Linked DNA regions of Homo sapiens. The protein of the gene in region 3 purifies or fractionates together with the protein of the main gene of each other region. This does not show direct contact. Each region holds a gene or a part of one and is shown on either strand. Other genes may lie near its edges.

What was found. The genes of interacting proteins can lie anywhere in the genome.
Region 1: the proteins of ZNF385C (region 3) and CRYGD purify together in Homo sapiens (affinity purification with mass spectrometry, with the first as the bait; one large-scale study listed by BioGRID). This does not show direct contact.
Region 2: the proteins of ZNF385C (region 3) and VANGL1 purify together in Homo sapiens (affinity purification with mass spectrometry, with the first as the bait; one large-scale study listed by BioGRID). This does not show direct contact.
Region 4: the proteins of ZNF385C (region 3) and LUC7L purify together in Homo sapiens (affinity purification with mass spectrometry, with the first as the bait; one large-scale study listed by BioGRID). This does not show direct contact.

What each region holds. Positions count from the first base shown.
Region 1 is NC_000002.12:208,121,725-208,125,947, forward strand, and holds the start of CRYGD (gamma-crystallin D), read right to left. Parts: upstream 2,801-4,223; 5' UTR 2,750-2,800; coding exon 2,741-2,749; intron 2,631-2,740; coding exon 2,388-2,630; intron 222-2,387; coding exon 1-221. UniProt on the Homo sapiens protein: Crystallins are the dominant structural components of the vertebrate eye lens.
Region 2 is NC_000001.11:115,662,470-115,665,969, reverse strand, and holds part of VANGL1 (vang-like protein 1), read right to left. Parts: intron 2,310-3,500; coding exon 1,702-2,309; intron 1-1,701.
Region 3 is NC_000017.11:42,091,974-42,095,473, forward strand, and holds part of ZNF385C (zinc finger protein 385C), read right to left. Parts: intron 1-3,500.
Region 4 is NC_000016.10:222,950-226,449, forward strand, and holds part of LUC7L (putative RNA-binding protein Luc7-like 1), read right to left. Parts: intron 1-3,500. UniProt on the Homo sapiens protein: May bind to RNA via its Arg/Ser-rich domain.

The sequences.
Region 1 (4,223 bases), on a different chromosome or scaffold from region 3:
CCCCAGTCCTGGTAGCGCCTATAGTCCCCTGGCATCAGCAGGTACTGCCGTCCTCGGTAGTTGGACAGCTCGTAGAGGACCCAGGAGCCCTCCAGCACGTTGAGGGAGTGGATTTCATTGAAGCGGAAGCGGTCCTGAAGACAGGAGCAGTCCTCAGTGAACTCTATCATCTGGCCTCTGTAGTCCTCTCTCTCATAGAGTCTGATCCTGTGAGAGCCAGACTGGCGGACCCAGAAATAAAAAGAGAAGAAAAGCAAGTGTGAAATGATTCCAATGCATTGTTAGGCAGTCCAGCTTGGTGAGGACCCGCTCAAGCCATTTTGAAATACATGGTAAAATTTAATTAATTCTGAATATTTATAAACTCCTCATTACCGAGCACAGAGATTCAGTACCTTTTCAAGATTATGAAGTGTGGTGAAGAAATTGAGAAGGAAATCTCACTCTTTAATATATTCAGCTATTTCTTAGGATGAGCTGCCTCCTAGGCTCAGTATCCTGTACCACATGCAAATCCAAACCTGTAACAGCTTATTACTATTTTATACCATTTTGAAGAAATGTTTTAATATTAAAATAAACATTAAATTATAAAGAAATATATTTAAATAATGTATAATTTTAATATACATATGATATCTAATACATATTTAATTATATACTATATTTAAAATATATTATAAAATGTATAAAATTATATTTTATTTAAAGTTAATCATATTTTATTTTAATAATTATATTCAAATTATATTTTATAAGTATAAATTAAAATTATATTTATTTTACAAATTATATTTTATTTTAAAATAACTTTACTAAAATATAAATAAAATATATTTAAAATACAGAAATATAAGGGGTGGGGCAGTGGCTCATGCCTGTAGTCCCAGCACCCTGGGAAGCCGAGGCAGGTGGATCACTTGAGGTCAGGAGTTCAAGACCAGCCTGACGAATATGGCGAAACCTTGTCTATACTAAAAATACAAAAATTAGCCAGGTGTGGTGGCGGGTGCCTGTAATCCCAGCTACTTGGGAAGAAAATTGCTAGGGCCCAGGAAGCAGAGGTTGCAGTGTGCCGAGATCATGCCACTGCACTCCAGCGTGGGGAACAGAGCAAGACTTCGTCAAAAAAAATAATAATAATAAATAATAAAATAAAATAAAATAAAAATAAAAATACAAAAATTAGCTGGGTGTGGTGGCGTGCTCCTGTAACTCCAGCTACTCAGGAGACTGAGAGACGAGAATCATTTGAATCCAGGAGGCGGAGGTTGCAGTGAGCCGAGATTGCACCACTGCACTCCAGCCTGGGCGTCAGAGTGAGACTCTGTTTCAAAAAACAAAAACAAAACAACAACAACAAAAATATATATATACACACATATAATGTAAATGAAATATATTAAAAATATATTAAAATATATTTAAAATATGTTAAATATATTTAAAATATAATATAATTTATGTAGTTATATAAATATATTAAATACATATTTATTAAATAAATATATTATTAAATACATTATATTCATTAAATATATTTAATGTAAATATATTTAAAATATAAAAATATGTATTTTAAATATAAGTATTTAAAATATATTAAATATATCATTTAATATATTGAATTAAATGATAATGCATCATTTAAATCAATGACATAAATAAAATATGTTAAATATATAAGCCTTCTATTCAAAATATAAGTGTTTTAAATATATTAAAATATAAATATTTAAAATATATTAAAATATAAAATGTTAAATATCTTCATATATTAAAGAACAATTAATTCTAAGTCAATAACTTGTGAATGCAATGAAGAAAAATGGAGGAAGAAACATCAGTAAGTCCAAGGACGAATTTTGCATAAACTTTAGTGTTCTAACACACATATGGGATAAAAGGGACACATGTGTAAAATATGTGTGTTGCTCTCCTTTGAAGGAAAGTCTTACTTATATAGGTTGGGAAAACCCAAAATATGCAAGAGAGGAGCAAAAACGGGAAAAAGTCTCAAAAGAAATTACCCTGTTTGCTCAGTAACTGCTGTACGCTCTAGCATTTATTCTTCTATTGGGTATTAGTGGTTTTTCTACAACTCCATTCTAAATGATTCCAGAATAGGACTTAAGTCTTATACAACCCCTAGGGCAGGAGACACATTCCTACTCAATACATATTTGTGGATTAATTGTGATTAACTGGTGTCTGGGTAATACTTTGCTTATGTGGGGAGCAAACTCTATTGACTTAATCCACTATAGTTCATCTTTTGTCCACTCTCAGTTATTGTGACTGATCACTACTTCTAATGTTTAACTTTTGCTTGAAACCATCCAGTGAGTGTCCTGAGGGCCTGGGTCCTGACTTGAGGATGTACTCACGTGGGGGATGAGGCGGCAGGAGCGGACCGAGTCGCTGAGGCCCATCCACTGCTGGTGGTCGGCATAGTCGCCGCGGCGCAGGAAGTACTGGAGGCCCGAGTAGTTGGGCTGCTCATAGAGCATCCAGCAGCCGCTGTCCACGCGCGCCGAGTTGCAGCGGCTCAAGTAGGGCTGCAGGTTGGGGTGGTCGCTGCTGCATTCATAGTGGCGGCCCTGGAAGCCCCGGTCCTCGTAGAGGGTGATCTGCAAGGCAAGGCGGGACAAGGCGAGGTCTCACAGGCCTGCTCCTGCCCCAGTCTCTGGCCCCCGCGATGGAGGAAGCTCCGGGGTCCCGGGGCGCAGGCTGGGCTCACCTTCCCCATGGCTGGCTGGGCGCACGGCGGTGCTGAGCTGGTGGGGCGGCGGCGCTGAGCGGGTGGGGCTGCGGCGCGGCGGGCTATATAGCAGGAGGGCTGCTGCGTTGGCAAGAACCGCACAAAAGGGGCCCCCGGAGGGGAGCAAGGGCATTTTCGTGTTCTCTTTTTTTCTCTTTGCTGTGCTAGACCACGGGGCTTGTTGTGGGTTTTGGTCGCATTCTCTCTGGAGTATTCGGATTGCTATCACTGGCTGATGCTATTGAGAATGTTTGTAAAACGGCAATTTGGGACATTGTCTATTTATAATGGAAGTGGAGCTTCAGCTATTTCACATATAGTTCACGCTTTTATTCGTATAGATTGGGGAAAAACAAAAAAAATTTAAGTCGGGGAGCAAAAAAAGCAACGACTCTTAATAAGGCAAATATAAATTAATCTGTCAGAACTACAGTATTACTTACGTGCCACAATATTGAATACTGATTGTTAATAGGAAGGAAATGGGCTTAACTGAATGTTGAAAATTTCAAGTTAGTCCTTTAAGAGAACGTCATCATGAAAGGGTGTAAGAAATTGGAACATTTTATTAAGAGAGTTCACAGAATTTCGAACTTTTATTATGGTAAAACACACAGCAAACGTGAATCTTCAATATTGGGTCTGATTTTGTTGCAATTATGCCTGGAAGTAGCTGAGAATTAGATGTTTTTCTCTTAGCTAAAGGTGGTGCCGTGATTCAAAAGAGAGAATAGTTCTAAGATGCTTAATCTCAGAAAGAACTAAAAAGGGAAATATCTAAGTTTGAGGAAATTAGAAAAAGTAATATGTTTGAAACACAAAAACATGATCTCTTAGCTTGTTATAAAATAAAACCAAATTCCTAAGAAACTTATTTCTGGTAGGATCTAGAATACACCTTTGCCCTCTGAACGAGCGAGAGTACACAAGGCCTTTGACTCAGACGAAATTAATTGCATGAACACAAAGGGGAGCTATGGCTGGAATGATGCAGGGAGAGGAAGGAATAAAAATCTAGAAGTTGGACTCGAGGAAGACTTCAGAAAGTACTTATTGGCCTGGAAGAGAGCAGTTTGATGGACTGGGAAGAGTACTGGAGTGGAATATGACCTATGTGTCCAGCTTCTTTCATGTTCAAAGAATTGCTTACAGCCCTGTGTCAACCCATGGAAGTACTTTGTCTTGTCTTTGAGTCATAAATCTTTGTAAGTGGTATTTATGAATTAAACACCAACTATGTGCAATACAAATTATTTTAATTCTTATTTTCTGGCTGCTTTTTTTTTTTTGTATTCTTTCTATATAGAGCTCTACGGTGGTAGGGAAATACCTTTTTCTTTTGTTTTGTTTTGATTGTTTTCTTCATCCCCATTGCTACATATAGCAGGCGTATGGTAGGTGCTCAAAAATTGGTAAGGATCCTAACTCAAGGAAGTTAAGAGTCTCTAGTGGCTAATAATTG
Region 2 (3,500 bases), on a different chromosome or scaffold from region 3:
CCTGTTTCTGCACCTGTCCACCAGACAGCGGTGCACTGGTCTCTTTCCAAGTGACTGTGAGTGCCACAGGTGCTGAGATAGAGCTCTGAAGGCAGCCAGCCTGGTGTGTCCAGGGCTCTGCACACAGCAGATGTTTAACACAAAACTGCTGGTCATTCCCTGATGCAAAACATGGGAAAAGAAAGCCTTCTGAGATGAATATGCAGCAAAGCGGTGACCTACTTGTCTTCAGAGCCCTACAGGCATCTGTGAAGGACTCTAAACCCCAGATTTTTGGTGCACAGACATGTGACTTGGACACCAGTTTCCACCAAGGATCAGTTAGGGTGGCAGCAACCTTGAACGCTAGATCATCCCGTTCTCGTAGCACAAGCCAAGCCAGAGGAATGGAGGAGGGTACACACCAACATGAAGATGGTTTGGCAGCATGGCCTGACTCCAAATACAGGCTGAGCCACCTTCCTGGAGCCCAGCCAAATCTATGACAAAGCCGATTGTTCTGATACCCACTAAGGTGTGCCCTTGCTGATTCTGGCTGCTCTGCCAGCTACATGATCACAGCAGTAATAGCTGCAATGAACTAAGTGCCTACCCTGCCCCAAGCAGGCTACACACATCAGCATATACTGCCTAAGGAGGCAGAGAGCCTGGGAGAGGGTAAAGGCTTTGAAGTCAAATGTCCCAGGCTCTGCATTCACCCAGAGAACATCTCAGTGCAAGCCATGCTCCATGCCAGGCACTGAGGATGTAATGAGGTATAAGGGTGGCCCCTGGCCTCAGGGAGTTCATAGTCTGTGGAAGAAAACAGATGGAAAAATAGGCCACTAACCACAAAGTGAGAGATGCCATTATGGGGGCATTCACTCAGCCCTGGCCTCATGACATCTGAGTGAATCCTAAATGAGGCTAGCCATATGTTTTTGTGCAAATTACTTAAATCCCCTAAGCCCTAGTTTCTTCATCTGTGACACAGGGATTAATAATACCTAGGTCACGGGGTTCTATGAAGACTAAATACACAATCTATATATAAAGTGCTTACCTTGAAGCAAATAAAATGATGGTAATCACTCTTATTTAACCACAAAATAATGAGATTTTATGCAGAGATGTAAGTATGACAACCCAACTGACTTCTAACTTTTTCTCACGCATACATTTTCACAACACTCAAGGATTACACATTTGGAGTCTCTAACCTGCACTTGATTCTTTATTGGAGGGTCCCTCGGATGACCATATAATTTACTGCCCAAACCAGGCCTCTGAGAGTGGGAAAAAAGGAACAATTCATTATTCCACTGGGACAACATGGTAAACCAGATGTCACATTTGGGACAAAATGGAGCTGCTGGTCACTTTATCTGTTGTCCATTGGCCAATTTCAGAGTCAAAGAAGGCAGCCATCACTATGCATCTCCTTTCTCCATCATTTTTGGGAGCTGCCAATAACTTTGAGAACAAGCCCAGCAAAATCTCAACCTGGGTGAGAGCCAGCAACTGCCCCGCACCATCTAGAAGTCCAGAAACTCAATGAACATGGACACCCTCCCCACCCTCGCATCTCCTCCCCAAACCAGAAAAGAGTCAGACTCTGGTCCTAGCTCTTGGCATCTGTCACCACCCCTCACGTGCTACAGAGCAGCTGTCTCCCAGCAAGACATCAGCCATCCTTTCTGCCTCCTGGATGTTGCCTCTTACCTCAGGTGTCCCAGGCTGTAGAAGCGGGACTCGCCATCGGTGGAGCGGACCACCTGCAGCGTGAACATGGGCTGCAGCTGCCTGAGCTCCAGCAGGACGATGGCCAGGTAATGGATGAAGAGGAGGGCATCCACAAGGGAGACTGCATATTGCACAATGCCCTGGTAATTCCGGTCCCGAGAGTCCAAAATGCGGACCCCGTAAAAAAGCCAATAGGAAACCACAAAGAGAAAGATGAGGACCAACAAAAGGGCACGAAACACAAACACCCGTGGCATGTCAGCTCTCCGCTTGCGGAAAAAAAGTGCCCAGGTCCCTATGAGCAGAATGAGGAGTTTGAATGCCATGGAGATAAAGAGCCCCTCACAAATTGTGCCACAAGGCTCCAGCTCATCCCTCCACAGGATCGGAGGTAAAAGGATGAAGGCAATAGGGGTGAGGAAAACTAGAAGTCCAAGAAAAGAGGCGACGGTGAGGCCCAGGTAGCGTTTGCAATCCAGCCCCACGCTGTCCTCCATGTCCTTGCTGATCCTGGCAATGTCCTCTTGGGATATGCTGTGCTCCGAGGTGCCTGTGATGGCCGTGGTGGTCTCTCCCCAGTTGTCATCCTGGTGGGGAGAAGACAGTGAGGATGACATGACACAGGTCATTTGTAAAAGCTACAAAGGGCAGTGAACATGCAGGGCCCGCTGCATCTACCCAGCCCTATTCACAAAGGCTTCCAGAAAATGAAAGCTTAACTCTTTAAATATTAGAACTTCTTAACTCAAACGATTTTCATTGAAATTTTCAAAATGTATGAGGTATTTACCTTTTCAAACAGAGAAAACATAATGTGATCTTTCTGTCTGTTTGGCTGATTCATTGACATAACATTGATTATCATCCCCTGGGTTGAAAAGCCTTGAGCAGCTCTGAGGGCCTGGAGCTGTTTGCCCTGCAATGCGCAACCCAGGTATTAGACTAATCTTGTGAGAGCTCATCTATAGAGATAAACCTCCTGCATCTTCTTTCCAATTCACGCTGGGTTATAAAGGCTTACGAAGTCCAACTTTTGGAGGTGGGAGTATTACTACACCCTCTAGCAGCCCAGAAGAGCAAAGGGCGTAGCAAGGGAACTTACACCACTACACAAACCCAAGCTTACCTGTAGCTAGGACCCACATTTTAAAATCTCTTTATGGACTGGGGCGCGGTGGCTCACACCTGTAATCCCCGTACTTTGGAAGGCCGAGGCGGACGGATCAGGAGGTCAGGAGATCAAGAACATCCTGGCCAACATGGTGAAACCCCGTCTCTACTAAAAATACAAAAATTAGCAAGGCGTGGTGGCACATGCCTGTAATCCCAGCTACTCAGGAGGCTGAGGCAGGAGAATCGCTTGAACCCGGGAGTCGGAGGTTGCAGTGAGCTGAGATCGTGCCACTGTACTCCAGCCTGGGCTACAGAGTGAGACTCCGTCTCAAAAAAAAAAAAAAAAAATCTCCTTATGATGTTCACAAGATCCACTTAACAAGCATCAGTGTCAAGCACTCTTTAACAATATTTCTCATGGACCAAGCTAAGCAAATCCAGGAATCCGTGTATGGCCAGATTGGCTTAAAAATTCTTTCTAAAACATGTTTTCACGAGGAACTAAACATCAAGGGCATAGAAACAACCAGGATTATTAAAATGTTATCTTTTACTTTCTAGCTTCCTCTCTTTTTAAACTTCTAGGCCGTTGCTAGTTAAAGCAATTAGTCTATTCACTTAGCAAAACCCAGTTGATAGAATTTTAAAGGATTTTGTTGTTTAAA
Region 3 (3,500 bases):
AGCTCCAGCATGGTCTGGCAAGGAGCCCTGGCTGTGAGGGGTGAGGAGACCCAGGTTCCAGTCCAGGTTCTGCTAGAAGATTGATTCTGCGAAAGTTCCTTTGCTCTCTGAGCTTTCATCATCTACAAAAAGAACTTTGATCTTAGCCAGGCCCAGAGGTTCATGACGGTAATCTTAGCACTTTGGGAGGCCGAGGTGGGTGGATCACCTGAGCTCAGGAGTTCGAGACCAGCCAGGACAACATGGCAAAACCCTGTCTCTACTAAAAATACAAAAAATTAGCTGGGCATGGTGGCATGTGCCTGTAATCCCAGCTACTCAGGAGGCTGAGGCACGAGAATCTTGTGAACCTGGGAGGGGGAGGTTGCAGTGAGCTGAGACTGCACCACTGCACTCCAGCTTGGGCAACAGAGCAAGCGAGATTCGTGTCAAAAAAAAAAAAGAATTTTGATCTCTGCAGGTGCTCATAGGATGGGATGAGGCAGTTCTGTATACTGCAAAGTTCTGTACAAAATCAGGGGATAGGAGGCCCTTTGGGGTCCTAGGGAGATTGTTCTGGAGATGGATTCTTACAGGGGCCCCGAGCCCATCAGAGAATTATTCCTCTGCTAAAGTCTCACTGGAGGACTGGCTCAAGCCTCTGCCAACAGGGAGAGTGGGCAGGCTTCTCCCACATTCCAAAGACCACACCCCATGTGTCCCTCTTTAGGAACCCCTAGAAAACCCAAGGGTTCCTGTTCCCAGTGCCTTTTCCTGGCATTTCCTCTCCTCTCAGCAGGGAGTGGGGGAGTGTCCCATCCCCATCCTGCCCTCCAGGGCCAGAGCACTCAACTTTGGGGCTGGGGAGGGGGTCAGCTGGCATCAGATGCGGGACTGAACAGAGCTGAGATCAGAAGGGTAGAGAAGTCTGGGGCTTGGGATGTAGGAGAGACATCTGGGAGCGGGGGGCGGGGGTCCGGGGAAGGCTGGACAGGGCAGGGGGCAAGGCCAAAGCTGGGTCTGGCCTCTAGCCTGGGCATCTAAAGTGAGAAGAAGGACCTGTGGAGTCAGTCCTTGCCCCACCCAAGGAAATCTTAATCCAATAAACAAACAGCCAACACAGCCGCTCCTGTGCAAGAAGCCGTGGGAGCGATGGGGAGGCCACAGAGGTGGGGAGGCCAGGAGAGGGCAGGGAGGCTGTTTAAACAGGCCCCTCGGCCTGGGGCAGTTGGCAGAAATATTTGGAACAGGGTGGGGAGCACAGCTGTGGTTTGGAGCAGGAAGCTGGGGCCCGGGGTGGGTGGGCTGAGCTTGACTGCTTCCAGGAGAAAGAAAAGTGTCAATTCAGCCCCACTCTGGTCAACGCCTCTTCTGAGGGAGACTCCAAGTCCCAACACCCTTCCCTCAGTTCAAGGTCAATCAGGTCAACCAGACAGACAAGGGGCTCTATCCCTTATCTCCCAGAGTGATGACTCTGGACCCCCAGCCCTGCTCCCAGGCCTATGACCCTGGGCCTCATCACTGAAGAAAGTTTCAGAGTTCAGAGCCGAAACCCCGGAGTTCTCAACAGAGGAGTTAGAGGAGATGAGCCATCAGCTCTTTATTTTTTTTACTTTTTATTTTATTTTATTTATTTTTTTTTTTTTGAGAGAGGGTCTCACTCTGTCGTCCAGGCTGGAGTGCAGTGGCACGATGTTGGCTCACTGCAACCTGTACCTCCCAGGCTCAGGCAAATCTCCTGCTTCAGTCTCCCGAGTACCTGGGATTAAAGGTACCCATCACCAAGCCCGGCTAATTTTTTGTACTTTTTTAGCAGAGACGAGGTTTCACCATGTTGGCCAGGCTGATCTCTAACTCCTTGACCTCAAGCAATCCACCCACCTTGGCCTCCCAAAGTGCTGGGATTACAGGTGTGAGCCACTGCACTCGGCCCATCCACTCTCCCTAGGACGTGATATTCCCTTTCCTGCCGCCTTGCCTGGCAGTGGAGGAGCCCAGAAGTGATCGTGGCCCCCTGGGAGGCATTATCACCTTTTTTTTTTTTTTTTGAGATGGAGTTTCACATTTGTTGCCCAGGCTGGAGTGCAATGGCGCAATCTTGGCTTTCTGCAACCTCTGCCTCCCAGGTACAAACGATTCTCCCACCTCAATCTCCCAAGTAGCTGAGATTACAGGCATGCGCCACCGCGCCCAGCTAATTTTGTATTTTTAGTAGAGACGGGGGTTCACCATGTTGGCCAGGCTGGTTTCGAACTTCTGACCTCAGGTGATCCACCCGCCTCAGCCTCCCAAAGTGCTAGTATTACAGGCGTGAGCCACCGTGCCTGGCTGTCACCTTCTTTCAGGACTCTTGGCTCTCCTTTTGCCGAGACTCCTCAAGAGACTAAGGCAGAGAGTCAGAGGGATACATGTCCAGACTGACAGGCAGATATAGAGAGAGGTGAAGATACAGAAAGACCCACCCAGAGAGATAGCCACGCAGTCAGACACTGAGAGTGGGAGTGTGAGAGAGAGGGACAGAGAGAGAAGGGGTAGACAGAGGAGGCAGAGAAAAAGGAAGAAGAAAAGACATAGAAAGACTCACAGAAAAAAGAGCTAGACGGGTGGAGAGGAGAGACAGAGATAACAAAGGACAGGGTCAGGAGAGGGGAAAGGACACAGATGGGGAGCACACAGGAGGCGCAGGGCCAGACACACTCACAGGCCGAAGCAGAAAGAGGCTCACGAGAACTACACAAGGACAGACAGCCTCAGGACCCAGAGACACTCTCCTGGGAGACGTGGGGGGAGCCAAAGTGCTTGGGGGTCGAGCCCCACTGGGGGTGGCCTCACCAGGGCAATGCTGCTGCCTCCTGTCCCAAAAGCTTAACCAACCGCTGCCGGCATCTGGCCCCCAGCCACCCTCTAGTAAGCCAGCCCTTGGCCACTGGAGCCAGTGGGTCACCCAAGGTGAATGAAAAGTCACCAATAAGGGACAGTGAGAGTGTGACTGGGGTGAAGGTATGGGTGTCACAAGCCATGTGTGTCAGGGTGGGTCTGACCTGGGGTGGGGTTTAGGAGCGCACAACCCTATACACAGACCTCTGGGGGTTAGTGCAGGCGGGCATGCGTACCTGAGTGAGTTTGTGAGTGTCTGTACACGTGTGTGGATCCAGTTCCATTAAGAGCCTCACGATGCTAATGAGGCCAACGTGGCAGGCTGTTCCTCAAATAGCCCAATCAGAAACAATGAGTGAGCAGAGACAGCCACAATAAAGGTTTCATGCCTCTTCTGAACAGACGGTGTGTCCAGGTGCCACAGGGCACTTGACTACAGTCAACACCAGCGTACCATTCATTCCCGCTGGGGATGACCCCCGCCGCCTGGCCAGCTGACCCCACAGTCTCCCCTGTCCCAAGCCCAAACTCCAAACTCATGGGAGAACCCACATGATAGACACATGGGCCCTCCCGGGTGGCAGGCGCAGCTCCCTCTGAGAAGGGCAGCCAGAGGGATGGTGGGGTCCAACCCTGGCTTTCCC
Region 4 (3,500 bases), on a different chromosome or scaffold from region 3:
TTAAAAAAAAAAAAAAAAAAAGAAAGGAAGGCTTTAAACCTTTAATCCATCTTGAGGGGGAAAAAAATAGAGAGGCTTGCATGTCTGACTCTTGGGATGCAGTCTCATAGAAAGCATGTAGCATGCTAGGCTGGGCACGGTGGCTCACTCCTGTAATCCCAGCACTTTGGGAGGCCGAGGCGGGCGGATCACGAGGTCAGGAGATCAAGACCATCCTGGCCAACACAGTGAAACCCCTTCTCTACTAAAAATACAAAAAAAATTAGCTGGGCGCCTGTAGTCCCAGCTACTCAGGAGGCTGAGGAAGGAGAATGGCATGAACCAGAGAGGCAGAGCTTGCAGTGAGTCAAGATCGCACCACTGCACTCCAGCCTGAGCGACAGAGCGAGACTCCGTCTCAAAAAAATAAAATAAAATAAAATAATAGATAAAAAAAGAAAGCACGTGGCATACTCACTAACAAAACATCCTTCAGTATCACCAATAATAAAGCTAACATGGAGGCGGCAGACAACGGGTCTGCCTTGTATGGTGATGTTTATTTTGACGAAAGATTGACTTTTCTCCTTTATCATTCTTACTCTGAAGTCAGATGGGACTCACGTTATGGTCGGTTACATAGAAGACTTAGAGATAGGACAATAGTGGTTCTAGAAGCCAAATTTGCACTTAAAATCACTGTCACTGAAAATCTGACAACTTTTACCTCATTCACTCTGTTTTTTCTTTTTTTTTTTTGAGGCGGAGTCTCACTCTGTCGCCCAGGCTGGAGTGCAGTGGCACGATCTCAGCTCACTGCAACCTCTGCCTCCCAGATTCAAGTAATCCTCCTGCCTCAGCCTCCCGAATAGCTGGGACTACAGGGGCACGCCACCACGCCCGGCTAATATTTTTGTATTTTTAGTAGAGACAGGTTTTCATCATGTTGGCCAGGCTGGTCTCAAACTCCTGACCTCAAGTGATCCACCCGCCTCCTCCTCCTCCTCCCGAAGTGCTGGGATTACAGGTATGAGCCACCGCACCTGGCCTCATTCACTCTTCTAAGTTGTGGGTGTTGTCCTTTAAAATATATAGTTTCCACAAACTAAGCATTGTAGCTGAAAAATGAATGGCAGCTATCAGAAAAAATGCTTTAAACTAATCAAGGCTTTGTTGTTCAAAGAAAAAGCTACTACCAAAGGAAGCAGACCCTAAAACCTGAAGTACAACAAAGTATGAAGTACAAATTGATTTCCATTATAAAAAACTCAACTGTCAAGAAAGATATGACATTAGAAAACCTCATGAGGCCGAGCGCGGTGGCTCATGCCTATAATCCCAGCACTTTGGGAGGCCGAGGAGGGCGGATCACCTTAGGTCAGAAGTTCGTGACCAGCCTGGCCAACGTGGTGAAACCCCGTCTCTACTAAAAATACAAAAATTAGCCGGGTGTGGTAGCGCACGTTTGTAATCCCAGCTACTCGGGAGGCTGAGGCAGGAGAATTGCTTGAGCCCGGGAGGCGGAGCTTGCAGTGAGCTGAGATGGAGCCATTACATTCCAGCCTGGGCAACAAGAGCGAAACTCAGTCTCAAAATAAAAAAAAAAGAAAACCTCATGAGGCCAGGCGCGGTGGCTCATGCCTGTAATCCCAGCACTTTGGGAGGCAGAGGTGGGTGGATCACCTGAAGTCAGGAGTTTGAGACCAGCCTGGCCAACATGATGAAACCCCATCTCTACTAAAAATACAAAAAAAATTAGCCAGGTGTGGTGGCGGGCGCCTATAATCCCAGCTACTCAGGAGGCTGAGGCAGGAGAGTTGCTTGAACCCAGGAGACAGAGGTTGCAGTGAGCAGAGATAGCACCATGCACTCCAGCCTAGGCAACAGAGTGAGACTCCGTCTGAAAAAAAAAAACCTCACATGAAGCAAAATTCAGCACTTACTTTTCAATGTGAGAGCTCCCAAAAGAGTCCCTGCTTAAGCACACTGAGGATAGGCTTGGGTTCTATGATTACCCTCTTTGGATGTAGCTTTTCAGCTTTGCCAAGGAGGCAGGGAAAAATACTACTGGCCATTCCCCTGGATGCCCAACATCAAGCAGAGCTGAAATATCACATTCATTAAGTCCTTCCACAATATTCCACATGGCTGCTAAATCCAGTGTGTCAGGCGTTTTTTACTCCACAACCTGTGTTCTCTTCTGTACCTTCTACTGGTCTAACACTACTGACCAGGAAGGGCACCAAAGTTTCCGGAACCTTCAGAAAACACAGTTCTGGCCGGGCGCAGTGTCTCATGCCTGTAATCTCAGCACTTTGGGAGGCCAAGGTGGGTGGATCACGAGGTCAGGAGCTCCAGACTAGCCTGGTCAACATGGTGAAACCCCGTCTCTACTGAAAATACAAAAGTTAGCCGGGCGAGGTGGTGCATGCCTGTAATCCCAGCTACTCGGGAGGCTGAGGCAAGAGAATGGCTTGAACCTGGGAGGCAGAGGTTGCGGTGAGCCACGATCACATCACTGCACTCCAGCCTGGGCAACAAGAGCGAAACTCCGTCTCTTTTTTTTTTTTTTTTTGAGACAGAGTTTTGCTCTTGTTGCCCAGGCTGGAGTGCAATGGCTCGATCTCGGCTCACCACAACCTCTGCCTCGCGGGTTCAAGTGACTCTCCTGCCTCAGTCTCCTGAGTAGCTGGGATTACAGGCATGCGCCACCACACCCAGCTAATTTTGTATTTTAATAGAGACAGGGTTTATCTATGTTGATCAGGCTGGTCGCCAACTCCCAACCTCAGGTGATCCACCCGCCTCGGCCTCCCAAAGTACTGGGATTACAGGCGTGAGCCACCGCACCCAGCCTGAAATTCTGTCTCAAAAAAAAAAAGAAAAGAAAAGAAAAGAAAAGAAATACTCTCACTCAGATTATTTTTCTCACCAGTATTCTGCAGCTATGCTACACAGGGTCTGGCCAAGGAAAACATGGTTGAAATCTTCCCGAGAGTGCACATCTATCTGCTCCCTCTGACTTCCTTCACTATGGGTTTATCAAGAATTCCAAGTTGTGCATCCTATGAAAATACCCTACAGTGAAACTTCCTTTGACGAGTTGAAATCATTAATCTGTATTGACCTCGGTACACACAACAATCTGCATCAAACAGTAACGTTTTCCCATCCCAGGCCAAACAGCAGACAACACCCCAAGGAACAGAGGCACAAGGTTTGGCATTCATTTCGCATTTGCTGTCAGAAAACTCAGCTTGAGAAGTTTTAATACATCTGAGCGGTTTTCCAGAAGGTGCTCCTCCCTAATATAAGCAATGATTCATCATGAAGAAAACTTCCTTTAACATATGCACATTTCATCCTTAAAATGAGAGGATAGTTTTTAACCTCCGTGAGGTAGCTGTGAAACCTTAAAATGGGGGTGGTCTCTACAGGACTCCTTTTCTCTCAGTGGCGTAATCACCACAGATAACCTTCCACTATTCAGTCTTTTCAAATTCTTACTTCGAATAAATGCA